Homo sapiens: one gene and its partners. The protein of the gene in region 1 purifies or fractionates together with the protein of each later gene. This does not show direct contact. Each region holds a gene or a part of one and is shown in the gene's direction. Other genes may lie near its edges. The genes, in order: ING5, EPC2, EPC1, MBTD1, PCNT, BRD8 and JAZF1.

Region 1 (4,245 bases):
TTCTCCTGCCTCAGCCTCCCGAGTAGCTGGGACTATAGGCACCCGCCACCACGCCCGGCTAATTTTTTGTATTTTTAGTAGAGACGGGGTTTCATCAAGTTAGCCAGGATGGTCTCGATCTCCTGACCTCGTGATCTGCCCGCCTCGGCCTCCAAAAGTGCTGGGATTACAGGCGTGAGCCACCACGCCTGGCCTAGTTTTCTTACCCCTCTAAACTGAAGGGTTAAGAGTTGTGTCTGTTTCTGCTCTTCATATTAATGGAATCATCCAGTATGTTTTCTTTTGTTTCTTGCTCTTTTTGCTCCGTGTCACCTTCTCTGGGAATCATCCGTGTTGCTGTGTGTGGCTGTAGTTTGCTCTTTTTGTTGCTGAGTAGCACTCTGTTGTCTGAAGGGACCACAGCTTATTTCTCCATTTTACTGAGGATTGGACATTGGGGTTGTTTTCTGTTTTCTGCTCTTATGAATGTTTCCCGTGTGGATTTCTTTAGGTGACATAAGGTTTGTTTAGGGTATTTAAGAGTAGTGTGTTCTTTCTTGACTGCTCTACCGGAAAAAAAGAAAAGGGAAAAAAGAGTAGTATGCCAGGTCATAGGAAAGGTGGCTACAAGTTATTCATACAGGATGTTTGAGAGTCGAAGAAGGCACTGTGACCACTTGCTGTGTAACATTCAGAGCTGGGACTGTCCTGGGCACGTTGCCGTAAAGTCTGCACATTCACACGATCCCAGACTGTTTGTGCAGAACGGTTCTGCCCACTTGCGCTCCCACCAGCACAGCGTGAGTTCATGTCAGCCTACATCTTTGCCACAACTTGGCGTTGGCTGACTTTAGTTGTTGCCAGTCTGGTGAGCACATCATGGTGTCTTGTGCAGGGCTAGCTTTTCCCCCATTTCTCCATCAGATAAGAAAGCAGAGATTGACATCCTGGCTGCAGAGTACATCTCCACGGTGAAGACGCTGTCTCCAGACCAGCGCGTGGAGCGCCTGCAGAAGATCCAGAACGCCTACAGCAAGTGCAAGGAATACAGTGACGACAAAGTGCAGCTGGCCATGCAGACCTACGAGATGGTGAGGGCGGGGCGGGGGCCATGGCTCTTCCTCTGACCTCTACTCCTGCCTCTCATGCAACAAAATGTAAAAACTGCCCGGAAATGGGCATAGCCAAGTGGAAGGCTGGCTTTGGTAGCTGACGCTGCTGGAGGAAGTGCAGACGGAATACACTTCATGTAGGACCATCCCTGTTTTTTTTTTTTTTTTTTCTGGGCCCTTTTTGTTTGTGTATCTGCTCGGAGGAACCATTTGGGTTTTTTTTGAGACAGTCTCACTTTGTCGTCCACGGTGGAGTACAGTGGTGTGATTTCAGCTCAGTGCAACCTCCGCCTCCTAGGCTCAAGTGATTCTTGTGCCTTAGCCTCCCTAGTAGCTGTGATTACAGGCATGCAGCACCACACCCAGCTAATTTTTATATTTTTAGAAGAGACGGGGTTTCACCCTGTTGGCCATGCTGGTCTCGAACTCCTGACTTCAAGTGATCCACTCGCCTCAGCCTCCCAAAATACTGAGATTACAGGCATGAGCCACCGTGCCCGACCTCCAGGTGGCCATATTTTATTTTATTTATTTATTTTATTTATTTATTTATTTTTGAGACAGAGTCTTGCTCTGTCGCCCAGGCTGGAGTGCAGTGGTGTGATCACGGCTCACTGCAACCTCCACCTCCTGGGTTTAAGCGATTCTCCTGCCTCAGTCTCCCGAGTAGCTGAGATTACAGGCATGCAGTAGCCATACTTTATTATTATTATTATTTTTGAGATGGACTTTTGCTCTTGTTGCCCAGGCTGGAGTGCAATGGTGCTATCTCGGCTCACTGCAACCTGTGCCTCGCAGGTTCAAGCAATTCTCCTGCCTCAGCCTCCTGAGTAGCTAGGATTACAGTCACCCACCACGAAGCCTGGCTAATTTTTGTAGTTTTATTTTTTTATTTTTGTATTATTTATTTAGTTTTTGAGACAGGGCCTCACTGTGTCGCCCAGACTAGGGTGCAGTGGCATGGCTGCAGTTCAGTGCAACCTCCACTTCCCAGGCTCAAGCGATTCTCCTGCCTCAGCCTCCTAAGTAGCTGGGATTACAGGTGTGCACCACTACCAACAGGCTAATTTTTGTTTTTGGTTTTTGGTTTTTTTTTTTGAGACAGAGCTTCGCTCTTGTTGCTCAGGCTGGAGTGCAATGCCACGATCTTGGCTCACTGCAACCTCTGCCTCCTGGGTTCAAGCGATTCTCCGGCTTCAGCCTCCTGAGTAGCTGGGATTACAGGCATGCGCCACCAAGCCCGGCTAATTTTGTATTTTTGGTAGAGATGGGGTTGCTCCATGTTGGTCAGGCTGGTCCTGAACTCCCGACCTCAGGTGATTGACCTGCCTCAGCCTCCCAAAGTGCTGGGATTACAGGTATGAGCCACCGTGCCTGGCCTGTATTTTTAATAGAGATGGGGTTTTGCCATGTTGGCCAGGCTGGTCTTGAATTCCTGACCTCAAATGATCCACCTGCCTCGGTCTCCCAGAGTGCTGGGACTACAGGCGTGAGCCACCGCGCCTGCCCTAATTTTTGTATTTATTTTAGAGATGGGATTTTACCATGTTGGTCAGGCTGGTTTTGAACTCCTGACCTCAGGTGATCAGACTGCCTCGACCTCCCAAAGTGCTGGGATTACAGGTGTGAGCCGCTGCACCTGGCCTCCAGGTAGCCATATTTTAAAGTAGGGTTCAGCGTCAGATATCCCAGGCCTTGTTCACTGCATTTCACAACTCTGCTTCTCATTATTGCCCACACTCATGTCTTTTCCCTAAATGGGATTTATTCCATTGCAATGTCAAAATATGCAGAAAAAGCACAAGACCCTTGCATGGACTTTGAAATAGTGGGCCTTGTTTTAGCAGAGGTTTGTTCATTGGAGACTCAATTAAAGGGCAAGAAGGTGTTTCCTGGTGGATACTTTTGTACATTCGTGATTCTGAGGTGTTTTGGTTTTACTTTAAAATAAGACTTTGGGTATCCTTTTGTAGGTGGATAAACACATTCGAAGGCTTGATGCAGACCTGGCGCGCTTTGAAGCAGATCTGAAGGACAAGATGGAGGGCAGTGATTTTGAAAGCTCCGGAGGGCGAGGGTTAAAAAGCAAGTCTGTTAATTTTTTTTCTTTATTTTATTACTGTTAACTATGGAGTTTTGAAGAGTTTTGTCACGGTAAATCATTAAAGTATGATCACTAGGGTAAGTATCATATTTGGGTAAACCTTGTCTTGCAGGCTGGGTGTGGTGGCTTACGCCTGTAACCCCAGCACTTTGGGAGGCTGAGGCAGGAGGATCACTTGAGGCTAGGAGTTTGAGACCAACCTGGGCAACATAGCGAGACCTCATCTCAACAAAAAATTTAAAAATTAGCCAGGTGTGGTGGTGCACACCTGTGGTCCCAGCTACTCGGGAGGCTGAGGTGGGTGGATTGCTTGAGCCCGGGAGGTCAAGGCTGCGGTGAGCTATGATTGCTCCGCTGCACTCCAGCCAGCCTGGGAGACAGAGCGAGACCCCTTTTTAAAAACAAAACACAAAACTTGCCTTGCTTTAGAGAATTCTATAAAAATAATTTGCATCTTGATTATTTTTCAGAAGGCCGGGGTCAGAAAGAAAAAAGAGGGTCCCGGGGCCGAGGCAGGAGGACATCAGAGGAAGACACACCAAAGAAAAAGAAGCACAAAGGAGGGTAAGAGGCTTTCCCCTCTTTTTCCCAAAAGAACGAATACCCATAGCCTGTATCCCGGATGTAGGAACACTGATGGAAGCTGACCCGAGTGAAGTGCACCCCGTGTGCCGGGTGGTATTCTGATTCTTACGCTGCGCGCCTGTCGTCAGCCTGTCCTCACCGCAGCCTTTGAGGGGGTGCCGTTGTCAGGGGCATTTTCAGTGTCGCAGGGACCTGCCCAGGCTTTAGGGCTGCTGTGGTGCGGCTGGGCTGCACCTGGAGTCTGACTCCAGTGCCTGTCCTCTTAGCCACAGTGTGTGCTGCCCCACTAGGGACAGGAGGATGGTGAGCAACGTGTTGTTGACAGAGGCCAATGTAGACCACTCTTTAAGTAGCTAGATTTCTGTATATCTGTCAGTTATTTTATGTGTCAACATATAGTGTGCATATATTCATTGTTAATTATGTGGCCACATTTATTAAATAGACATGTCATTTAACTTGAAG
Region 2 (4,245 bases), about 93 Mb from region 1:
ACCGCCTTGGCCTCCCAAAGTGCTGGGATTACAGGCGTGAGCCACTGCGCCCGGCCAAAAAAAGTACTATTATAATAAAAGTTATTATCTTACTGATGTCCTTATAGCAGTAACTATATTTTTTGCTGTAAAGGACATTAGTGGGACAATTGTTGAAATATGAATAAAGTTTATATGTATAAAGAAATTAAGTAATAGGATTATATTAATGTTAATTTCCAGACTTTAATAATTGTACTGTGGTTCTATGTGAATATCATTTTTTTTTGAAAATATATATTAAAGTATATAGGGATAAAGGGGCATTTTATATCTTCAACTTCTCTTGAAATTTTTCAAAAATAGTACTGCTGATAATTTATAGATGTGTGTGTTTATATTCATACATACATATATGTATACACATACAGAGAGATAAAGCAAATGTAAAACATTAACCTTTAGAGAATCTGGATGAAGATATATGAGAATTCTTTATACTGTTTTTGTAACTTTCTTGTAAGACTGAAACTATTTCAAAACAAAAAGGTTTTGTTTTTGTTTTTTATTTGTTTTTTAAAAAAAGGACAAGACTGGGGAAAGGAAAGTTAGGAACGATAATTATTTGGGCATAAAGAGAACAGAGGCTGGGGGCAGTGGCTCATGCCTGTAATCCCAGGACTTTGGGAGGCCAAGGTGGGCAGATCATTTGAGGTCAGGAGTTTGAGACCAGCCTGCTCAACATGGTGAAATCCCATCTCTTCTAAAAATACAAAAAATAGCTGGGTGTGATGGTGGATTCGTGTAATCCCAGCTACTGAGGCTGAGGGAGGAGGGAGGCTGAGGCAGGAGAATCGCTTGAACCTGGGAGGCAGAGGTTGCAGTGAGCTGAGATCACACCACTGCACTCCAGCCTGGGCAACAGAGTGAGACTCTGTCTCACATACACACAAACACACACACACAAAAGCAAAACAAGATATGAATAAGACAGGGTAGAACCTCCAAGAGGAACACTTACTGAACAGGGGAGCCATCTAAAAGGTTCTGGTGCACTTTTGAATATTATTCAGCTGCCAGCTGGCATGTAACCTCATATTATTATCTGCCTTACAATTCTGTATATCTGTTTTCTGTCTGTCATCCTTACTAGATTCTAAGCCTTTTGAGGGTAAGGGACATGTGCAATACCCTGCACAGTGTAGGCACTTTAATAGTTGCTGTCGAAAATATTAATTTTTTTAATTGAAAGGTATTATTGCTGCCTGTTTAAAAAAATGCTTAAACATATGCTTTAGATTTACCTTTTGTCATAGTAATGAAGAAGAAAAAGATGAATTTTTTAAAATTACACAAAAGGATGACTTATTTTTAATATTCGATGTGGAATACCATAATGGGACTTAGTGTAGGTTATTTTTAATATATGACTATTATTTTTCAAATGCAGGAAACTATACACAAAAGAAAAAGAGTATAACTTTGACTTTTTCTCAATTGTTATTTTTCTCTTTTATAATCCTCCAATATGAAACCTTTGGTATTCCTTAGGTTCTTTCTAATGTCATTTCAGATTATTAAATCAAGGCATGAATGATTGCTTAAGTACAGTTCACTCTGGATGCATAGATTGGAGAGGTGGTAGTGGTCTATTTTTAAACAAATAGTTCCATGCCTAATAGTAAAGTGAGGAATCTGTGGATGTTTAACAAAATAGTTTATATTAGTAATAATTTTATATGCAAATAGATGCTACTAATTACAACTGAGCCTTTTCTAGTTATGTAGCAGGGCTTTCACTTTGTATAATAATTAGTTGAAAAGCTAATAAACAGTGTTCTGAAATTCAGTATTTTTGCTAAATCTCTTTTCTACTCAGCAGTGGAGTGTTACATTTACATTGAAAATTGACAGTCCGATTTCTTGAAATGGTTGTTATCCTACTTTCAGTTTTCTGAGTTTCTGAAGTGAAGCTTTACTGGTCATTGTTCATGTTCACATAATAGTACAGTGTATCAAACCATCCAGCCCCCAGTTACAGAGCTGGAGATGGATGGATGAATGGATGAGGGGACTCATTTTGACTGTTACCTTGATCTGGACAGAACTGTTCCTCTCTGTCATTGGAAAATACTTTCCTACACGCTGAATGGACTACATTTTCTGATAACAGATTTTGTTTCAGGTGGACATTTTTTGTTTGTTTACATTGAAATTATCTCTTTATGCCATTCTACCTTTTCAACAGCTGGCAACATTTTTTTTCTGAGTGTCGAGAGATACTTGCTTGTACTTATATTTTCAGAGTTAAATAGTTATAGGTTATCTTACATAGGTTGCTGTTCAGATTTTTTTTAACATTTTACTTTTATAGGATAAATTCAGGTCTGATAAGAGTTTATTGAATAAAGCCGGAAATGTAGATAACTGTGTTGTTTATTCTTCTAAAATTATTATTTTTAATAGAATCGTAAGAATGATGAAGCCTCTTATGAAAAGATGTTGAAACTGAGACGAGAATTTAGTAGAGCCATAACAATTTTGGAAATGATTAAGAGAAGAGAGAAAACAAAACGAGAATTATTGCACTTAACCTTAGAAGTTGTGGAGAAAAGGTAACATTGCTCCTGTTACAACAGTAAAATGACAACTTTACCAAATGATGGGCAAAATGAACCAAAAGATTTTTAGGGGGGAACAGGTTAAGCTTTATGACAGTTGATATTGATTCTGTAAGAATTTATATTTTTTAAAGATTTGTGGTTACTAGTTTTTATAGATTAAGTTATCAATTTGGATTGCAGATTTTGGGAGAGTTTTGTGTATACTGTAGATCCTATACTTAATTTTGTTTTGGCAGAATCATTGAATTTTATTTAGTAAAGAACTCTAGTGATCATATTGTTTACTTCTCTGTATTAAATTTTCTATTAAATCTGAGGGAAATAAGTATTGATTTTATTTTCTGAGTAGGTAGACATTTTTCGTTTCAACTCCTTTTAGAAATGTGTGCTCTAATATAGTATATTTTCCTACAAAATTAAATAGACTAAACAAAAACAGAATTTTGTATGATTCCTGGAGTAAGCATTCTAAACATTTCCTAGTGCTTGATTATATAATATATGTAAGAAATTTGTTTGCTGTGTACCTTAGGCCTTTTTTAGTTTTTTGGTTTGTTTTGTTTTTACCAAATCCCTGTTTCTTTATTCCTGCAAATTTTATCTTTTAAAAGTAATTTGATTGTTAGCCCTTTTTGACTAGGTGACTTCCAATTAATTGAGGTATCACTTATTTTCCTTCTTTATTGTCAAACTATGCAATGTTTTCTTATATTTTTGTTACCTTTTCAAGATACCATTTGGGAGACTATGGTGGTGAAATCCTTAATGAAGTAAAAATCAGTAGATCAGAAAAAGAGTTATATGCCACTCCAGCAACTCTTCATAATGGAAATCATCACAAAGTTCAAGAATGTAAAACTAAGGTGAATATTGTCTGGGAAGAAGCATGTATGGATGGTAATGTTGATCAGAGGAGTTATTGATTTCTGCAGTTGTCTTAATATGGTTTGAGTAAAGAAAAAGTAATTAACGTGACTTTAGTTCTTACCATGAGCCAAGCACTTTGCTAGGAGTATTTATATACATACTGACCAATTAATCCTCATAACAACCCTTAGAGATAGTTGTTGCATCTGTGTGACTTCTATATAATAGCTAGTAAGTGGCAGATTCAAGGTTTCAGTTCAGGTCTAATAGTCCGTCATGTTCAATATGCTATCTGCCTCCCTAGGGAATAAAGGTAATTAAAGTCTAGTTATTATCACTAGCCTTAGCAAACCTTGCATTGTAATGGAAGGAATCAACACCTCAAAGCTTTCTTCATTGAGACTATTGAAAATTATTATTGTCATCATCATTTCCAGAGCCAGCATTTATCAATTGTTATCTACCTTGAGTGACTTTGAGAAAGTCCTGTAATTTCTGGGTCACAGTTTCTTCCTAATGAAAGAGCCAGACTCAGTGGTTATTTTAGTCACTTGGACTAGATAACTATATTTATTTGGTCCTCACTTGGTACATTAATTAAAGTATTTAATTGGGAAATATGAAAACTAATAAAGCCTTTAATTTTAAGGAGCATAGATTTAAATAGGAAACAGATATTGACTGAAGCTTCTAGACAATAGAGCTTTACTCTGTAGCAAAATTTTTTAAATGACCTAGGGTGTTTGTGGAAAATTCATCTTTTAAAAATGTACAC
Region 3 (4,245 bases), on another chromosome or scaffold:
AATACCTCAGAAACAAATACCTCGGACAAATCTTTCTCTAAAGACCTCAGTCAGATACTAGTCAATATCAAATCATGTAGATGGCGGCATTTTAGGCCTCGGACACCATCCCTACATGACAGTGACAATGATGAACTCTCCTGTAGAAAATTATATAGGAGTATAAACCGAACAGGAACAGCACAACCTGGGACCCAGACATGCAGTACCTCTACGCAAAGTAAAAGTAGCAGTGGTTCAGCACACTTTGGTATGTTGACTGTTAATGATGTACGTTTCTATAGAAATGTCAGGTCCAACCATTTCCCATTTGTTCGACTATGTGGTCTGTTACATTTATGGCTTAAAGTCCTTTTCTCTTAAACAGTTAAAAAAAAAATCTTGGTCTAAGTATTTATTTGAATCCTGTTGCTATAGGAGTTTGTATGTGTGTGTCTTCATTTAAACATACCTGCATACAAAGATGGTTTATTTCTATTTAATATGTGACATTTGTTTCCTGGATATAGTCCGTGAACCACAAGATTTATCATATTTTTCAATAATATGAGAAGAAAATGGGCCGTAAATTGTTAACCATTTTATGTTCAGATATTTCTCTAGTTTTTACCTAGTTTGCTTTAACATAGAGACCAGCAAGTGAATATATATGCATAACCTTATATGTTGACACAATAATTCAGAATAATTTGTTAAAGATAAACTAATTTTTCAGAGAAGAACATTTAAAGGGTTAATATTTTTGAAACGTTTTCAGATAATATCTATTTGATTATTGTGGCTTCTATTTGAAATGTGTCTAAAATAAATGCTGTTTATTTAAAATATTCCTATAATCTTAGCTGTCTGTTTTAAAGCATAAGTTTGTGTTATTTGAAGCCTATATATTGTAGAAATTCACCATTGAATTATGTTACTACTGATTTTTGTAAAGGTAATCTGAGGACTATGAAGATATTTATCATTCCCCTAATTCACCCTGTAGGGTTATAGTTAAGTTGCTTCATAAATATGAACATTTGCTCTGATTCTTAAAGACCTCCAGAAAATGTTCCGTAAACTAATTTACTTGGTGGTTAAAAAAAAGTACAGTTGACCCCTGAACAACATGAGGGTTAGGGGCACCCCCCAATTGCAGTCCAAAATTCATGTATAACTTTTGACTCCCCAAAAACTTGACTAATAGTCTGCTCCTGACCAGAATTACCAATAACATAAACAGTCCATTAGTCCATTAACATAAACAGTCCAAACATACATGTTTTGTATGTTATATGTATTCTGTACTTCATTCTTAAAATAAGCTAGGAAAAAGAACATGTTATTAAGAAATTTATAGAGCCAGGCATGGTGGCTCATGCCTGTAATCCCAGCACTTTGGGAGGCTAAAGTGGGCAGATTGCTTGAGCCCAGGAGTTCAGGACCAGCCTGGGCAACATGGTGAAACCTCATCTCTACAAAAAATGCAGAAATTCACTGGGTGTGGTGGTGAGCGCCTGTAGTCTCAGCTACTCAGGAGACTGAGGTGGTAGGAGCCCAGAAGGTCAAGGCTGCAGTGAGCCAAGATCATGCCACTGCATTCCAGGCTTCACAGCAAAGCAAAACCCTGTTTCAAAAAAAAAAGAAATTCATAAAGGAGAGAAAATACATTTACTAATCATTAAGTGTAAGTGGATCATCATAAAGGTCTTTATCCTTGTCATCTTCACATTGAGGGGGAGGAGGGGTTGGTCTTGTCATCTGAGAGGTGACAGAGGCAGAAGATAATTTACAAATAAGTAGACCCAGGCAGTTCAAACCCATGTTATTCAAGGGTCAGCTGTACTTCTATGAAATGGAAGTCTTTCAGCTCATGAGAAAAATAATCACAATTCAGAAATCAGCTGGAAGATAAAGCTATTTTAGGGACTAACAGCTTATTTATAATCCCATTAATGTTACTGTCTTTATCACCAAAAGCCAGTTTCTCTCTACTTTTATAGTCTTAAGAATCAAAATAAAGAACTTTTCAATAAAGACTTACTTATAGTGTTAGTATAGAGGTTTTAACAGTATAAACCTGTCATAGGTTACCCTGATAATTAAGCTTTCTAAGCTGTAAAAATTCTTTAAGACTTCTCAGAAAATAGGCATGTTCCATCAATCTCCATCTTCTCCACCCCTTAAATAGAGAAGTTGAAGTGTATAACTATCCTAAATATTTAAGGATTTTATAATGCTCTTTTTTTATGAAAAATGTTTTGCTATACTGCTTTAGGCATATTAATAACAGTTGTAAAAATTGTTTGATTTGTGTTTGCCCAAAGAACATTAAAAGATGAGCATTACCAAAAGCTTAGCTGAAAAGAAATCATTAGTAACCTTGTAATTTTTCTTCTTTATCATTTCTTTCCTCCATATATGCGATACAACTATTTATTTATTTATTTAAGACAGGATCTTTCTCTGTCACCCAGACTGGAGTATAGTGGCACAGTCATGGCTCACTGCAGCCTCAACTTCCCAGGCTCAGTGATCCCCCAACCTCAGCCTCCTGGGTAGCTAGGACTGCAGGCGTATGCCACCATGACTGGCTAATTTTTTGTAAGAGATAGGGTCTATGTTGCCCAGGCTAGTCTTGAACTCCTGGCCTCAAGTGATCCTCCTGCCTTGGCCTCCCAAAGTGCTAGGGTTACAGGGGTGAGCCACTGCACCCAGCCTCAATACTACTTTTTAAAAATGAGTTTATCTATTTTTTTTCCTGTTGTCTTAATTATTTTCAATTTCTCCTTAAATTTTGCTAGATCTTCTAATACTTAGAGGATAGATACCTACAGACTACTGTAGGGTAACACTGTTCATTTATATTTGTGAATATTCCAGAGACCTAAAGCTTTTCTCTGCATACTTTATAAAGTATATTACAATGCAGCCATATCATAAGTGCATTTCACTTAATCCAACTCCAGGCCCCTGAAGAAAAAAAAAACAAAATTTAGGCCAAGTGTGGTGGCTCATGCCTGTAATCCCAGTACTTTGGGAGGCCGAGGCGGGCAGATCACCTGAGGTCAGGAGTTCCACACTAGCCTGGCTAATATGGCGAAACCTGGTCTCTACTAAAAAATACAAAAATTAGCTGGGCATGATGGCAGGCGCCTGTAATCCCAGCTACTCAGGAAGCTGAGGCAGGGAGAATGGCTTGAACCTGGGAGTCAGAGGTTGCAGTGAGCCGAGATTGTGCCATTGCATTCCAGCCTGGGCGACAGAGTGAGACTCCATCTCAAAAAAAAAAAAGAGAAAATGTAGCAGCTCAAATGTTATACAGAATTCTAAATACAATTTACTGAAAGAATATATTCTCCAGAGTGAGCCTGGAGTAGGGGAAGTTGAATGTGTTGGTCCTCTTACGGCGTGAGTGCCCGCATTGCCACTTTATTCATAGGTTAAGCATCTTACCTCATTCAGTAGTAATTGTGATTTTAAAGATAATTTTTAATTTTCATACAGCATGGCCCCCACATACAAACCAGACTACTTCCTCTGGCACTTAACCAAAGAAACTCTGATGTAGTCTGATGCCAGCAGAAAAACTGGCAGTGTTGGGCTAATTAAAACAGAAGAGTCAGGCCAGGCACAGTGGGTCATGCCTGTAATCCCAGCACTTTGGGAGGCCGAGGCAGGCAGATTGCCTGAGATCACCTCAGATCAGGAGTTCAAGACCAGCCTGGCCAACATGGCAAAACACGTTTCTATTAAAAATACAAAAATTAGCCAGACGTGGTGGTGGGTGCCTGTAATTCCTGCTACTCGGGAGGCTGAGGCAGGAAAACCACTTGAACCCAGGAGGCAGACGTTGCAGTGAGCCAACATCACGCCACTGCACTCCAGCCTGGGTGACAGGGCAAGACTCCATCTCAAAATAAATAAATAATAAAAATTATGCATGAAACAAAGTATTGACTGCATTTTGACTATGGCCCCATCACATGAGGCCAGGTGTAGAATTTTCCACTTGTAGTATCAGGTCAATGCAGAAAAAGTTTTGGTTCTTGGAGCATTTCAGATTTCAGACGTTCATATTAGAGATGCCCAAGTTGTTTATGAGTTTGGAAGTTAACTATTTTGTAAAATACAAGTCAGCTGATAAGCTTTCCTGCTACTTAAGCCAAATATGCGAGTTATAGTATAGCCATTTCTGATTATTCATTGTTTTTATGTTTGTCATGTTTTTGAGACAGAGTCTTGCTCTGTCTCCCAGGCTGGAGT
Region 4 (4,245 bases), on another chromosome or scaffold:
TGGTTTAACCAGTGATTTTTCCAATTTTAATACTTGAGCATTAAGTTGTTCCTCTAAGAAAGGAGGAAAGCTATAACAGAGGTCTATAAAAAATAGTATTTGCTCAGCCAGTTTTCTTTCCTTGCAAGAAAGAAAAATATCAGTCCATAGTATTAGGTGCTAGACTCTTCTAAAGCCTAGGATTGAAAGAGCAAAAATGTACCATTGTAGTAAACAGAAAAAGAGAGCCACTTTTGCGTTAGACTAAGTAGGCACACCAGTGTTTCTAGAGAGGGGAGGGAAATCTGTGTAACATGGAGGAATTATTGCACTCAGCAGTATAAATCATATAGGCCAGGTGCAGTGGCTCACGCCAATAATCCCAGCACTTTGGGAGACTCAGGTAGGAGGATTGCTTGAGACCAGGAGTTTGAGAACAACCCGGGCAACATAGGGAGACCCTGTCTCTACTAAAAACAACAAAAAATTAGCCTGTCACAGTGGCATGTGCCTGTAGTCCCAGCTACTAGAGAGGCTAAGGCAGGAGGATCACTTGAGCCCTGGAGGTTGAGGCTGCAGTAAGCCTTTGAGGGCACTACTGCACTCCAGCCTGGGCGACAGAGCAAGACCCTGTCTCAAAAAAAATAAAGTTGATCATATAACCTATGCTCTTAAGATTTTTTGTACTGTTACTTTTTGTCTGCATTTTAATATTATGCTAATTTTAAATGAACTGCTAGTTAAACCAGTTGTGTTTTTTAGGTTACACAAAACTTCCTTTTAAATGGTTTGACTACCTCAGGGAAACTGGCTCCATTGCAGCACCAGTAAAACTATTTAATAAGGTAAATTTAAATGGCAGCATAATTATGTGAGGACTTATTAATGCCCCACAAATACAATTTATGTTCATAAAAATGTCTTTGCCTTGTATTAGAATTTCTTAGTGGAGATATAATATAAACAAATATAGCAATGAAACAATATAAATATTTTCTTTACCTAGGAATCAAAACTTGTTTCCAAACTATGTTTCGTTTTTAATCTGAAGGAAATAGAAATGAAGATTTTTCCTAACTAGTTTTTAAATACTTCACCTTCGTACTATGTTTAAATAGTTAAAGAATTATTTGGAATTTATGGTTTATAATTATGTTATTTAGCTAGTCGCTTCTGTTTTTTGCTTTCTTAGTGATAGTAGGGTTGTGCATTCTTTCTTCTTCATACCAATATTAATGTTTTCTTCTCTGTGTCAGGATGTTCCAAATCACGGATTTCGTGTAGGAATGAAATTAGAAGCAGTAGATCTCATGGAGCCACGTTTAATATGTGTAGCCACAGTAACTCGAATTATTCATCGTCTCTTGAGGATACATTTTGATGGATGGGAAGAAGAGTATGATCAGTGGGTAGACTGTGAGTCACCTGACCTCTATCCTGTAGGGTGGTGTCAGTTAACTGGATATCAACTACAGCCTCCAGCATCACAGTGTAAGTTGGTATACAGAAAAGGTGTCCTTTTGTAAAAATCAGCAATTCTCCAGAGGACTATCTCACATAAGTCATCTTATGAGCTCACAGGACAAGAATATACCTATGTCTGATTGGTTGCCAGGTAAGACATTAAGACTCAACAACAATATCACAGAATCAGACCATGTGTCCCATGGCAATGTGAATCCAATAGTCAATTACATAATGACTATAGAAACACAACAGTCACCAAATTAAACTAGACTTACTATTTTAGTGAGTTAAAAATTACATACTAAAAGTTTATTGGTAGGTAATAAATGCTTTTGAGTAAATAGTGGAAAATGTCTCATGTTGAGGCTATGGTTTTGTAGGAACAAGTACCCTTATTTTCAGAGCATCATGTACTTAAGTATAATGGTCTTGGTAAAGATAGTTCATATAAGTTGTATCTAGACAACTGTATCGTCTAAATTGTAAACAATTATCTAGTACCAATTTTCCCTTTTTATTTTTCAGCATCAAGAGAAAACCAATCAGCTTCATCAAAACAGAAGAAAAAGGCTAAGTCCCAGCAATACAAAGGACATAAGAAAAGTGGGTCACCACGTGGTGTTCACATACATTTTCTAATTGTTAACTAATTGGAGTCACAGTATTCTTGGACAGAAAATGATATATCTTGTGAGAACTGATGATTGTGCATTATGTATTATGCTTAAAGGTGCAGTATGCCATAAAAGGCAAACCCTTGCAATAATGAGAAACACTGATATTTTACTAACAGGAGAAATTATTACCACAGTATTTAAAGTATACGTGGTAAAGAATAGAGTCTGTGAATGATTCTTGAAATAATATGTAAAACCTACTGAAAGTTAATCCTTTTTAAAAACTTTATTTAAAAAGAAAAATTAGCAGCCAGGTGCAGTGGCTCACGCCTGTAATCCCAGCACTTTAGGAGGCCGAGGCTGGCAGATCACAAGGTCAGGAGATCGAGACCATCCTGGCTAACACGGTGAAACCCTGTCTCCACCAAAAATACAAAAAATCTGCCGGGCGTGGTGGCACACGCCTGAAGTCCCAGCTACTCAGGAGGCTGAGGCAAGAGAATCACTTGAACCCAGGAGGCAGAGGTTGCAGTGAGCCAAGATCACGCCACTACATTCCAGCTGGGCAACACAGCAAGACTCTGTCTCAAAAAAAAAAAAAAAAATTAGCAGATGCTTGATGCTTACAGTAGATGTGAAGCCTAATAAACCCATTTTTCCTAGAAAGCAAAACTTTCTAGAGTGATACTGGTAAGAAATCCAAGTTGATGGCAAACAAGCTTTACCAAATTTTTCTAGAAATGCTTTCTATACTAAAAAATTAGCCGGGTGTGGTGGTGCACGCCTGTAATCCCAGCTACTTGGGAGGCTGAGGCAGGAGAATTGCTTGAACCCAGGAGGCGGAGGTTGAGGTGAGCCGAGATCGTGCCATTGCACTCTAGCCTGGGCAACAAGAGCAAAACTCCATCTCGAAAAAAAAAAAAAAAAAGAAATTCTTTCTATACTATATTTTACCTTACAGTGAATTGTTGGCATAAGCCAAAGTAATATAAAATATATTGATAACTATGTTTGATTTTTTTTATCTTATTTCCCCACCATAGAAAGCCATAGCTTTCTCTCTTCATAAAACTTGTCATAGAATGTTTCATTCTTTTTTGAGACAAGGCCTTACTTTGTTGCTCAGGCTGGAATGGAGTGCAGTGGCACAATCTCCGCTCACTACAGCCTTAACCTTCCCTGGCTCAAGCAGTCCTCCCACCCCAGCCTCCTGAGTAGCTTGGACCACAGGCATGTGTTGCCACACACCCAGCTAAGTTTTGTATTTTTTTGTAGAGACAGAGTCTTGCCACGTTGCCCAGGCTGGTCTCAAACTTTTGGGCTCAAGCACTCTGCCCACCTCAGCCTCCCAAAGTGCTGGGATTACAGGCATGAGCCACCACACATGGCCATATTTCATTTCATTCTTAGATAAGGTTATATATATATATATATATATTTTTTTTTTTTTTTTTTTTTTTTTTTTTTGAGACAGAGTCTCAGTCTGTCGCCCAGACTGGAATGCAGTGGTATGATCTTGGCTCACTGCAGCCTCGACTTCTCGGGTACAAGCAATTCTCCCACCTCAGCCCCTGGAGTAGCTGGGACTACAGGAGTATACCACCATGCCCAACTCGTTTTTATATTTTTATAGAAATGGTGTCTCACCATATTACCCAGGCTGGTCTCAAACTCCTGGGCTCAAGCGATCCATCTGCCTGCCTTGGTCTCCCAAAGTGCTGGGATTACAGGTGTGATCCTCTGAGTCTGGCCAATTTTTATTTAAAGATATTTTTTAAATTGGACTGGACGCGGTGGCTCATGCCTGTAATTAATCCCAGCAACTTTGGGAGGCCAAGGCGGATGGCTTTAGACCAGCCTGGGTAACATGGCAAGACCCCATCTCTAAAAACAAAAAAAGGAAGAAAAAAGCAAGCTATTTAAAAAATGTAAAAGTATACTTGAGGATTAAAACTGAAACAGATTTTTCCAGCTGACTTGCCAAATATGCTCAGGTACGTGCTGATTTGCCTCATTAACAACCTAGAGACTGAAGTGGCAAGAAGAATCGAATATACTCTGTTCTAACCTTTCTGATGTTTGCTTGTTAAGTGGGAAACTTAAAAATTTCTACTGTCCACTATAGTAGTACTTTGAAAAATAAGTTTTCTCCCAGCACAAAACCCATGTCAGCCACACACAA
Region 5 (4,245 bases), on another chromosome or scaffold:
CCTCTGCACCTGCCCGCCCGACACTCACCTGTGTGGCCTTGGGAGCAGAGGGTGGTGACAGGGCATCATCTAGTCAAGCCCCTGAGTGTTGCCATGGTTGTCAGCTGATAGGACTGAGCAGAAAGGACCCTGGAGACAGGCAGCGCTGGGTGGGGCTGGCACGGAGGCCTCACTCTTGGGCCTGATGTGGGCAAGAGGGGCCTGGGTTGGGCTCTGAGTGCTGGCAGATTCTTGGGAGCTCATGCTAGAGTTCAGGAATGTCTCGTAGGTTTCTACATTTAATTTAGCTTCTTCGGGAGTTTTTATGTAGATGCTCAGGTCATCTGTGGGTAAGTAACGATTTTTTGTTTCTTGCCCGTGTTCTCTCACGTGCTGTGCCGTCAGCTGTGTGGGCAGATGCCATTCCCTGCTCTTAGTTTTGGGGGCAGGAGCTGGTCTCGTACCATCGCATGTGGGGTCAGGCGCCCTTGGTCAGCTTGGGCAAGTGCCCTCTGTTCCTAGTTTTGGATTCCGTCAAGGGGAACGGCCTTGCAGTTCAGCCCACGGCCCTTGTCCCGGCGCCCATGCCCTTTGTGCTCTCTGGGGCTGGGGGCCGGCGCTGTGCACATGCTCGTGAGGGGCATGGGTGGGGCTGGCGCTGTGCAAGCGCTTGTCAGGGGCATGGGCGGGGGGTGCCGGCGCTGTGCGAGCGCTCGTGAGAGGCATGGGGGGGCTGGCGCTGTGCACGTGCTCGTGAGGGGCACGGGCAGGGGGTGCCGGCGCTGTGCGAGCGCTCGTGAGGGGCATGGGGGGGCTGGCGCTGTGCACGTGCTCGTGAGGGGCACAGGGGGGCCGGCACTGTGCGATCGCTCGTGAGGGGCATGGGGGTGGTGGGCCGGTGCTGTCTGAGTGCTCGTGAGGGGCACTGGTCTGTTTTCTGTTGTGCCTTTTTGGTCTTGGTGCTGGGTAGCGCCAGCCCCACGGGGTGCGGGAAGTATTTGGGAAGTAGCCCCTCCGCCCTCCGTTGTCTAGAATTGGGGTTATTTCTTCCTTAAGTTTTGGGAGAATTTTCCAGTAAAGCCACCTGGGCCTGGAGTTCCCTCTGTTGGAGGCAGTTTAGGGTGTGAGTGGGGGTGAGGTGGCATTTTTAGGATGGCCCCAGGGCTATATCACTCCTGGACTCTGTGTCTCCCGGCCAGGTGGGTGGGCCCTGGAAGGAAATGGGCCCAGAGGGCAGAATTGAGCATCCTGGTTCCACCCGCAGTGAAAGCTTCTAGTCCACAGAACCTCCTTTCTTCCCGAAGCACATACACCTCACGCCCCCACGAGTCTGTCTCTAACCTGGTGTCACTTGTGCAGCACGAGGAGCTCATGGGGGCCTGTTACTGTTCTTTTGTCTTTCTCAGTTGAACTGCTGGCTTATAAAGTAGAGCAGGAGAAGTGCATTGCTGGTGACTTGCAGAAGACGCTGAGTGAAGAGCAAGAGAAGGCAAACAGCGTGCAGAAGCTCCTGGCGGCGGAGCAGACTGTAGTGCGAGATTTGAAGTCCGACCTCTGTGAGAGCAGGCAGAAGAGCGAACAGCTGTCCCGGTCCCTCTGCGAGGTGCAGCAGGAGGTCCTCCAGCTGAGGTGCGCCTGATCCCCCTTCCTGGGACACTGGCGGGAGTCCCCCCGTTGTGCCATGTTTTCTTGGTGATGAAGGGAGACAGAACCTCTGGTGGGCCGCAGTTGGGCAGCCCCAGGGGCACCGCGCCCTGCTGTCCCTGGGTTGATAATCCTGTGGTGGGGGGTGAAGCACACGTGTGGGACCTGGCAGGGCTCTGCCTCCCCTCCTGGAGCTCCCAGCCCCCGGGAACACACTCTGGCCCACGTGGTCAGATTGTTCTGCGATGTCTCCACGCAGATCCATGCTGAGCAGTAAGGAGAACGAGCTGAAGGCCGCGCTTCAGGAGCTGGAGAGTGAGCAGGGGAAGGGGCGTGCCCTGCAGAGCCAGCTGGAGGAGGAGCAGCTGCGGCACCTGCAGAGGGAGAGCCAGAGTGCCAAGGCCCTGGAGGTAACAGGGTGTCAGGGCAAGGCAGCCGGCATGGGCTGTGTGCACTGGAAGCCTGAAGCCATGCTCCTCTTTCATCCTTCTTTTCCTGTTCTTCATGGCAGTGCACCCAGTTGACAGCAGTGTGACGTAGCAGGATAGGGCTGTGTTTGCAGGTAAAATTGCACCTTGGTGTAGTGGCAGCCACCACAGGGCGAAGAGTGCGATGACCCGTGGTGGCACGATACCCCTGCTCGGAGCCCCCCCCCGTCCCTGAGCACTTGCTGTGGAGATGGACACAGCCTCCTCGCTGGCATCCAGACAGAGCACAGCCTCAGAGGTCTGTGCACAAGGCAGGCTGGTGGTGGGGCCTCTGCTTTGCATGGCGGAGGCCCAGCAGGCCTGCTGTGGCTTCTGAGCAAGTCTGTGCCAGTTCCATGGGTTATGGCTTTCAACAGCATGGAAGTGGTGGTTCCTAGCAAGCTGGGTGTGTATCTCTGAGCCTCTGGTGGAGTGATTTTCTGAAGAGGGGGCAGGAGCCTCTGGTGGAGTGATTTTCTGAAGAGGGGGCAGGAGCCTCTGGTGGAGTGATTTTCTGGAGAGGGGGCGGGCAGGGGACATCTCTGAATCATTTTCTGGAGAGGGACAGACTGGGAACATCTCTGAACCCAGGACTCAACACCATTTCCGAAAAAAGTATGTCATCTCCGCAGTCTGGGTTTTTTGTTACTTGATGAACTAACAAAAAAATGTTGTCCCTACATGTGGCTAATAGGGTGCATTTCAAAAGGTAGAATTGCTGGGCTAAAGTATATAAACAAATGTGGACAGGAAAACCATGTAGACACTTTTCCTCTTGATTCAGTGTCTCCCATCGTATGTGTTTGCTGTCTAGGAGCTGCGGGCGTCTTTGGAGACACAGCGTGCTCAGAGCAGTCGACTCTGCGTGGCACTGAAACACGAGCAGACGGCCAAGGACAACCTGCAGAAGGAGCTGCGTATCGAGCACTCACGCTGCGAGGCCTTGCTGGCTCAGGAGCGGAGCCAGCTCTCTGAGCTCCAGAAGGACCTTGCGGCTGAGAAGAGCCGCACCCTGGAGCTGTCAGAGGCCTTGCGGCACGAGCGGCTCCTGACCGAGCAGCTGAGCCAGAGGACACAGGAGGCTTGCGTGCACCAGGACACACAGGCCCATCACGCTCTGCTGCAGAAGCTGAAGGAGGAGAAGTCCCGGGTGGTGGACTTGCAAGCGATGCTTGAAAAGGTGCAGCAGCAAGCCCTGCATTCTCAGCAGCAGCTTGAGGCTGAGGCTCAGAAGCACTGTGAGGCGCTCAGGAGAGAGAAGGAGGTAAGTGCCACACTGAAGTCGACGGTGGAAGCCCTGCACACCCAAAAACGAGAGCTGAGATGCTCTCTGGAGAGAGAGAGGGAGAAACCAGCGTGGTTGCAGGCAGAATTAGAGCAGTCACACCCACGGTTGAAAGAGCAAGAAGGACGCAAGGCTGCGAGGAGGAGCGCGGAGGCCAGGCAGAGCCCAGCGGCTGCGGAGCAGTGGAGGAAGTGGCAGAGAGACAAGGAGAAGCTGGTGAGAGCCGCCTGCCGGCGGAGCGTCCACACCTAAAAACGATAAGCAATTGGAGTTAGGATGGTTCACGTGGGGGACGCGAGATTTATGTCTGGCCCTCTGACCTGGTCTGCTCTGGTCTGTGTGCCCTGACGCTGGCACCACACTGCTGTTACTGTAGCTTTCTAGAAAGTATTGAAATCAGGAAGTGTGAGTTCTCCAACTTCGTTCTTCCTCTTCAAGATAGTTTCAGCTCTGTGGGGCTTCTTGCTATTCCACAGGAATTTGAGGATTGGTGTTTGTATTTCTGCAGAACCTGCCACTGGGATTTTCTTAGGGATGGCATTAAATGTGCTGATTGCTCTGGGTAGTATTGACATCTGGACAGTGTGAGGTCTTTTGATCCACGATTACAGAATGTGTCTCTTCATTTAATTAGGATTTTTTTGAGATAGGGTCTGGCTCTGTCACCCAGGCTGGAGTGCAGTGATGTGATCTCAGCTCACTGCAGTCGCCGCCTCCTGGGTTCAAGCAATTCTTCTGCCTCAGCCTCCCACGTAGCTGGGACTGCAGGCACATGCCACCACGCCTGGCTAATTTTTGGATTAGTAGAGACAGGGTTTTCCATGTTGGCCAGGCTGGTCTCAAACTTCTGACCTCAGGTGATCCGCCCGC
Region 6 (4,245 bases), on another chromosome or scaffold:
CATGCCCAACTAATTTTTGTATTTTTAGTAGAGACGGGGTTTCACCATGTTGGCCAGGTTGGTATTGATCTCCTGACCTTGTGATCCACCCGTCTTGGCCTCCCAAAGTGCTGGGATTACAGGCGTGAGCCACCGCGCCTGGCCATTCGCATCTTTTTTATTCCAAAGTTTGAACTCCAAGCCTTGCACTCTCAGCATACCTCTCCTATTGTTTTCTGCTTGGTGTGTAATAAAGCTTTCCTCATTTTGTAGGGTATCAGTTAGCAGAGCAATCAAGCCCTTTGCAGAACCTGGCCGCCCTCCAGACTGGTTCTCTCAAAAAGTAAGTTCCCAAGCAAGGGCTCTTTTAGAGCAGTCTTTGGGTTGTAAAGTAGGTTCTCTACCAGGCCCTGACTTTTAGTTACAAAGCTTTTATACCATGATGTGGGAAAATAGTTGAGAATACCTTTTTCTTTTTCCTACTGTTTGCTAATCCATCCATGTATGATCATATTAGACCTTTCTTATTGGTGTTGCATAACAGTTAAGAGCCCAAGCTTGGGAATTAGATCTGGGTTCATTATTACTCCATCTAAAAACTTTGGGCCATGATCCTCTGTTTTTTCATTTGTAAAATAGAGATAAAAGAGTTGCTTCAGGATTGTTGTGAAGCTAATTGAAGTAATACATGTAAAACATTTAACACAGTGCCTTGCATGTAGTAACTACTTGGTAGATATTAGCTATAAATATTGGCAGTTAGGTTGCCTTTCCGCAAATGCACAAACTCCAGTCCATAAGACTGTCTTTTTCTGTGTCTTGTTTTGATTATTTTGAACTGATTTGATTATAAAGTTACTTGCCCTCCTAGTAAACCACTCCCGTCTTACATATAGTTCTCTTCTCTAAATCTTACTCTAATCTCTTGAAACTTTGAAAGGTCATTTCTTTCCAGCCTTGCTCATCACATTTTCACTTTTTTTTTTTTTTTTAATAGCATTGTGCTTCCCAGTACTCGGAGCTTTTAGAGACCACTGAGACACCAAAGTGAGTACAAAGCCAGGTACTTCAGCCATATTTCTTTAGTGGAGAGTATTTACTGAGGAATTCTGGTTTATACTTAGTTATGATACTGGATGATTAAAAAATAGCAGAAGTTATCTATGATTAAGTGGTAAAAGCAAGTAGGAGAGGGGATAAATGTTATGTTATTTGAATATGAATTTTTTTTTTTCAATTTTCCACAGACGGAAACGAGGTGAAAAGGGAGAAGTGGTGGAAACTGTTGAAGATGTTATTGTTCGGAAATTGACTGCTGAGCGAGTTGAAGAACTAAAGAAAGTGATAAAGGAAACCCAGGAGAGATATAGGTACTTATCAGAGAGAATGCCAAAAAATTGAGAAAGACATAAGGGACTGTCTTCTGGTACTGGTCAGAACTTTTAAAATAGCAGATTAAAAAACCCAGTCTACCTACCTCTCTTTCTTCCTATAGACGGCTAAAGAGAGATGCAGAACTAATTCAAGCTGGACACATGGACAGCAGACTGGATGAGCTTTGCAATGACATTGCAACGTGGGTTATATTATATTGTTCTTCTGTGCTTCTTTCTTTTTACCCTCTTTTCCCCTCAAGTAATCTGGCTTATTTCCTCCAATTGCCGTCCCTTTAGACTTGAGACAGATTCTGGAAGGGGAAAGCTGCAAAGTGGTTTGGTGGCTGGGAGGGGGGAGTGAGTCCTAGAAGGTAATATAATGGGACATTTCAGTATGAAAACATAACTTAGTTCTAACTTAAGAGTGGCTATAGTTTGCCTGGGTGAAGAACTGGGAGTTAGGCAGTATACCCCAATTCACTGTTTTGCTGGTTAGAATTCCTGTTTAGGCCTTTCTTCCAGAAAGTGCTGGCCTGGCAAAAAAAATTACTTTGTAAGGGTTCTGTGAACTCTGGGGAGGAGCCAGAGCTGTCTAGCATCTAACCCTTAATTCCCTGTTTAGGAAAAAGAAATTGGAAGAAGAGGAGGCTGAAGTAAAGAGGAAGGCTACAGATGCTGCATACCAGGGTAAGCTGAACCTAGTATGCCTCTTTAGCAATTGATTGCACAGTACTGCATGCTAATGACAGTTGGACTGTTTTGTAACATAGAATACATTGATTTAAATTTACTTGCAGTTTTCTCTTCTACCAGAATAAAAACATCCCTTAATGTCTTAAGAAGAAACTCCTAGAACATGCGTTGTGCTCAGATCTCACTAGACCTTAAATTAACTTCAGGACACAAAGGCTTGATGAGATATTGAACATAATGTTTTAGAAGTCAAGGGCCTGTGAAAAGATTGAGAATAGCTCAGTCATTAGATGAGGAGAAATTTAAGCATTTACAACTCTAGGAATACATGCTGTGCGCCAGTGAGGTCTTTCCCTGTTTTTGTTTTTTGTTTTTCCCCCAGGCGGAGTTTTGCTCTTGCTGCACAGGCTGGAGTGCAGTGGCGCGATCTTGGGTCACTGCAACCTCCGCCTCGCGGGTTCAAGTGATTCTCCTGCCTCAGCCTCCCGAGTAGCTGGCATTACAGGCGGCTGCCACCACACCTAGCTAATTTTTGTATTTTTAGTAGAGATGGGGTTTCGCAGGCTGGTCTCAAACTCCTGACCTCAGGTGATCCACCTGCCTTGGCCTCCCAAAGTGCTGGGATTACAGCCGTGAGCCACTGCACCTGGCCTTCCTGTTCTTAAAAGCAGAATATTAGTAAGTTGCTAAAGAGAATATTAAAGGATGTTTAAACTACTTTCCCACTCCAAGGACCTTTGGGATAATTAAGTAGTTTGAGATTGTTAAAGGAGTTTCTTAGTGTGAGAATTGCCCTTAGGAAAAATTAGGCTAAAAAGTTATCCATCTCTAGAAGTGTTAAAGCTTTCTAATCCAAACTTATTATGCTGCTTTAGTAATGCAACATACCTATTTGTCCTTTATTGTATAATAGCAGACTAGTGTCAAGTTTCATTTATTTAATCTTGAAGATTTGGACATTGTTCTCTTTTATGTTCTAGCTCGTCAAGCAGTAAAAACACCCCCCCGGAGGTTACCCACTGTGATGGTTCGCTCTCCTATAGATTCTGCCTCCCCAGGAGGTGATTATCCACTTGGGGACTTGACTCCAACCACTATGGAAGAGGCTACCTCTGGGGTGAGTATATTTCCATCTGTGGGAATTGATCAGTGAAGGGGCAATAAGCCGGCAGAGCTGAGCGATGAGGAAACCACTTTTGGCCTAGAGGCAACTTCCTCTCTTGATCTGAATGCTAAAGACTTAATTTACCATGTTCTGTGCTCTGAGATAAGAACGGACCTAAAAGCATTGAGGCTTTTGACCTTTTTGAGAGATAGGTAAAAAACTATTTTAAGAAATTGTTTCATACTAGTCTTATGAAATTCCTGCTGAAATAAGGGACAAAATCCTTGTAAATGTAATATTGGTAGTGGGTAAGGAGTTCATAAAAGGCAGGTTGGGTGGGATGGTTGAGTCACTGTGGGTTTGAGTGGATGAAAGAGAAGATTGTGGGGAAGAAAAGTATGGCTAAGAGCAGGAGGGATAGAGGGTTTCTGGGCAATTCCACTCAGGACTAATAAAATAATAGTTAGACACACTAACCCATACAGATTAGTAGGGAACCTTCCATAGTTTGAGAAGTCAGATAAAGGTTCTCTGTTGTCTCTTAGGTAACCCCCGGGACTTTGCCGAGTACCCCAGTCACCTCGTTTCCTGGGATTCCTGACACCCTTCCTCCAGGCTCTGCACCCTTAGAAGCCCCCATGACCCCAGTAACAGATGATTCACCCCAGAAAAAGATGCTTGGACAGAAAGCAACTCCACCCCCCTCCCCTCTGCTGTCAGAGCTCTTGAAGAAGGGCAGCCTCCTGCCTACTAGCCCCAGACTGGTATGGAGACTTCTGTGGGTGTTTGAGAGCTGTGGTGATTTAGTACTTGGAAGGGAGTGCCTGGGACCTAAAATGTGACATGGGGAATAAAAGTTCAAAAGAGGAAAAGATCTCCTAATTAAATGTTAATTTTTTAAAAATACAGTAAGTTGATAGTACCCATGGGTCCTGAGGTATCTGAATCACAATTATTTTGGTTCTCTTCTCCAGAGAACTCTTGTCAAATAAGTTTTGAACATTATAGTTTAGAGTTTCCCTTGGGTCTTAAATTATTCTCTGTGGATATTAGCTATTAGTTTTCATGAAGTTTGATCAACTGCTGGAGCTT
Region 7 (3,105 bases), on another chromosome or scaffold:
CCACCTTTTTTCAGGGGAAGCATTCAGCAACCCTTTAAAGAAAAAGAATTAAATGCATGCTTTAAATTTTTTCTGTAATTTTGGAATGATGTATCTTTGTAGAGTTAATGATTTTGTACATTTGCACATGTAATCATCATACCCATTTTCATTACTTTGATATAAGGTGCTAAACAAAAAAAGCTCTAGGTTCTTCAGCACATTTCCCCCAAAACAAAATAAAATTGAGGGCATGTTGCATATTGTTGAATTGTATTGCGGTGGTATCAACCTGGGGGGAGGAGGGGCTGGCACTGAGATTTTTTTTTCAAGATTGTAATGTGATTGAAGTTTTCAACACATCAACTCACATATGTTCAAAACCAAAATAATACCTTCATTATCAAACTGGTTACCATGCCTTACATAATGGAGTTAGTATTTGTGAGTAGAAAGACTTTAGGTAATGGAAATATAAATAAGAAAGAATGTTTAACATAATATGCTAAAAATATTTTCATATTTAAATAACATACGTAAAGGTGTGCTTTCTGTGTTTTATATTATCTTGCAAATCCTTTTGCCCTTTAAAAAGCTGAAAATCTTGCCATCTGACTTACTAGTCATTTTAGTGTTATAAATGGCATTTTGTACAAAATAGTCTATTCAGTTCGTTCATTCATTTAACACACATTGATTGAGTGCCTGCTGGGTACAAGGGATTCAATTTATGCCTATTGATATCTGCGGACCAAGATACCCATTTAGTGAAATACTTTTTTCCCTGAAATCTGTTAGAAAAGACTTTGAAATACTTCAGTGCAAAGTGTGTGTGTGTGAAGTTTAGTTATATCTTCATCTTCAGATGAAGTTTTAAAGCACTTTGTAGTTCTCTATTGCCAACAATTTAATGTTTATGTGTTGCCAATTCTTGCAACCACTGCCCTACCAAACCTGTGGGTTGCAAATCAGAACTAAAATTCTAAGCACGTTTCAAAGATGAACACTTTTGTTAAGACCCCTATTGCCTCTTCTTCATGCTCATTTTTTACTTTTTTTAAAAGGTACTTTTCTCATCACATTGTAGAGAGGTCTGCATTCTCATTGGAAATGTCTGTTTAGCTTTATAAAACAAACACTTTGCTGAAATAGGAAAATGAGCCTTATTGACAATTAAGTGCTTCTTGCAGCAGGTGGTCAAAGAAAAGCATGACTAATACGACCTATTAGAGTAATCTACATCTGGACCATTCCTTAAGTTTTTCCTCACCGACAGTACCATCATGCCTTGAGTGTTCTTTTCTCCCAAGTGCTATTCCTTAAACACGAGAGTTTACCAGTTGCCTAATAATGCAATAAAAAATGCTTTGAGATAGCTAACTGCCCATAAAACAAACTCAAATTGCTTATAAAGTTTCTTCCCATGTTCCCATTTGATGAAAAGTCTTACATCACATATAACTGGGAAGCAGGGGTCCCTCCTCAATTTTCAGACATTTTGAAAGGATGACAGTTCTGTTTGTTAGATGAGTAAACCTCTATATTCATAAGTTCTAAAATCCTTCATTATGAGGGATTCAAAGTATTTATAAAAACACTGCCCTCTAAAAATTTCCTCAGATCTGAAGTATGGTCTTGGTCCTGAATATACAGTGTTATCCTATGTTTAAAAGGGTGATCCAGACATGAGACGCAACTAGTTGGTGCATAAGAAGGCCCCACTTGGCTATTTCATATCTACCTACAATTGACCAAAAAAAATTTTTTAGGCCAGCAATTATTATTTAGCTTCGCTCTTTCTAGTGCAAGAAACTGCAGGCTGGATCAGTAGTTCAACAGCTAAACAGTCATAAAATAGTCATTGTGCATGTTAAATTTCTTTCAATGCTTTCAAAGATAAATTCCAATTTCTATTTACTTATTCATTGTGACAGTATTACTAAACAGGTAAGGATGGGAATATTTTGTTATACTGTGTATAGTGAATGTATTGTACTGTGTCTGTGAAAACTGTGCTTTAAATTATATTTTCATATGTTTTGTTGGGGACAGAGCACATTAAGTCTGAAAGCAACAGAGGTTTGTTTTAGAACTGAAGGCAATTTAATCAAAATTCCTGTCAAGAAAAGCTGCTTATAAATGTAAATGAAATCACATTTAAAATAAACTGCCTCTGACCCAAAAATAAATATGGCTCTTTATTTTCCTTAGTGTCCATTATGAAAACCAGTATCAAGTTTACCATGGAAATTAATATATCCATTCAGTTCCTCATTCTAAGGCTGTTCAGTTGATGCATGTAGACTTTATTCCCTTACATTTTTGCTTAGATTAGATTAGGCTGTATTACTTTTCTGTCAATAACAAATTAAGCTTGGACTTACTTACTTAAACTATTTTAAAATAAGTTCTAGGCTAGTAAGATGAACAGTGTCTACTACTATAATAAATATTCCAAGGATACTTTTGGATTAACATGGTCCATAATTATTAACTCCAACAAAAATGCTCCCATTGTTGAACATATTTTACCTAAGTATATAACCTATCTGGAAGCTGAAAGTCTCCAAAGCTATTGCTTCCTAGGACTGCTGTGTCCTAACAGCTGGCATATGAATGCCTCATACTGGTTTGCCCTAGACTCAAAAAACTTTTTAAAGGATTCTAACAATATACAAACTCTGCTTCCACAAACAAATACAAGTGACGACATGATATGCTGCAGTTCACATATAGCAACTCAAAATGCCACCAAGTCTAAATATTAGGTTAACATCTTCAATAGCTAGTTTGCTCAGAACAAATGTAAACTATTTTGATGATAACTACAAAAGCGGCAAAATCAAAAGTTGGTGCTTTAAATTATTCACACGCACATTATAAAAGGGAAAGGGAATACAATTCAGAAGTATTTTAAAGGCCCAAACCAAAAAAAGATGTTCAAGATGCTAGATTAATGAAAAACTTTCACAAATAAATTTGACAACAATGAAATTACAGATCTTGAAAAATGTGTCCTCTTTCTTTAATGTTAGTGACAGTTCTATACAGCACAGACATAACTGAAGAAACACATTACTTTGATTTGGGTTTATGTATTGTACTTTTAATCACTTACTGAGAATA

The links.
Region 2: the proteins of ING5 (region 1) and EPC2 purify together in Homo sapiens (affinity purification with mass spectrometry; one large-scale study listed by BioGRID and IntAct). This does not show direct contact.
Region 3: the proteins of ING5 (region 1) and EPC1 purify together in Homo sapiens (affinity purification with mass spectrometry; one large-scale study listed by BioGRID and IntAct). This does not show direct contact.
Region 4: the proteins of ING5 (region 1) and MBTD1 purify together in Homo sapiens (affinity purification with mass spectrometry; one large-scale study listed by BioGRID and IntAct). This does not show direct contact.
Region 5: the proteins of ING5 (region 1) and PCNT purify together in Homo sapiens (affinity purification with mass spectrometry; one large-scale study listed by BioGRID and IntAct). This does not show direct contact.
Region 6: the proteins of ING5 (region 1) and BRD8 purify together in Homo sapiens (affinity purification with mass spectrometry; one large-scale study listed by BioGRID and IntAct). This does not show direct contact.
Region 7: the proteins of ING5 (region 1) and JAZF1 purify together in Homo sapiens (affinity purification with mass spectrometry; one large-scale study listed by BioGRID and IntAct). This does not show direct contact.

What each region holds. Positions count from the first base shown.
Region 1 is NC_000002.12:241,708,313-241,712,557, forward strand, and holds part of ING5 (inhibitor of growth protein 5), read left to right. Parts: intron 1-903; coding exon 904-1,070; intron 1,071-3,064; coding exon 3,065-3,176; intron 3,177-3,665; coding exon 3,666-3,759; intron 3,760-4,245. UniProt on the Homo sapiens protein: Component of the HBO1 complex, which specifically mediates acetylation of histone H3 at 'Lys-14' (H3K14ac) and, to a lower extent, acetylation of histone H4. Component of the MOZ/MORF complex which has a histone H3 acetyltransferase activity.
Region 2 is NC_000002.12:148,759,337-148,763,581, forward strand, and holds part of EPC2 (enhancer of polycomb homolog 2), read left to right. Parts: intron 1-2,445; coding exon 2,446-2,594; intron 2,595-3,333; coding exon 3,334-3,466; intron 3,467-4,245. UniProt on the Homo sapiens protein: May play a role in transcription or DNA repair.
Region 3 is NC_000010.11:32,280,703-32,284,947, reverse strand, and holds part of EPC1 (enhancer of polycomb homolog 1), read left to right. Parts: coding exon 1-250; coding exon of another isoform or gene 251-363; exon of another isoform or gene 364-827; intron 828-4,245. UniProt on the Homo sapiens protein: Component of the NuA4 histone acetyltransferase (HAT) complex, a multiprotein complex involved in transcriptional activation of select genes principally by acetylation of nucleosomal histones H4 and H2A.
Region 4 is NC_000017.11:51,190,007-51,194,251, reverse strand, and holds part of MBTD1 (MBT domain-containing protein 1), read left to right. Parts: intron 1-741; coding exon 742-824; intron 825-1,235; coding exon 1,236-1,470; intron 1,471-1,971; coding exon 1,972-2,049; intron 2,050-4,245. UniProt on the Homo sapiens protein: Chromatin reader component of the NuA4 histone acetyltransferase complex, a multiprotein complex involved in transcriptional activation of select genes principally by acetylation of nucleosomal histones H4 and H2A.
Region 5 is NC_000021.9:46,428,625-46,432,869, forward strand, and holds part of PCNT (pericentrin), read left to right. Parts: intron 1-1,385; coding exon 1,386-1,608; intron 1,609-1,882; coding exon 1,883-2,033; intron 2,034-2,904; coding exon 2,905-3,591; intron 3,592-4,245. UniProt on the Homo sapiens protein: Integral component of the filamentous matrix of the centrosome involved in the initial establishment of organized microtubule arrays in both mitosis and meiosis. Plays a role, together with DISC1, in the microtubule network formation.
Region 6 is NC_000005.10:138,168,142-138,172,386, reverse strand, and holds part of BRD8 (bromodomain-containing protein 8), read left to right. Parts: intron 1-252; coding exon 253-322; intron 323-976; coding exon 977-1,026; intron 1,027-1,226; coding exon 1,227-1,349; intron 1,350-1,474; coding exon 1,475-1,555; intron 1,556-1,977; coding exon 1,978-2,042; intron 2,043-3,028; coding exon 3,029-3,165; intron 3,166-3,698; coding exon of another isoform or gene 3,699-3,917; intron 3,918-4,245. UniProt on the Homo sapiens protein: May act as a coactivator during transcriptional activation by hormone-activated nuclear receptors (NR). Isoform 2 stimulates transcriptional activation by AR/DHTR, ESR1/NR3A1, RXRA/NR2B1 and THRB/ERBA2.
Region 7 is NC_000007.14:27,829,636-27,832,740, reverse strand, and holds the end of JAZF1 (juxtaposed with another zinc finger protein 1), read left to right. Parts: 3' UTR 1-2,164; downstream 2,165-3,105. UniProt on the Homo sapiens protein: Acts as a transcriptional corepressor of orphan nuclear receptor NR2C2. Inhibits expression of the gluconeogenesis enzyme PCK2 through inhibition of NR2C2 activity.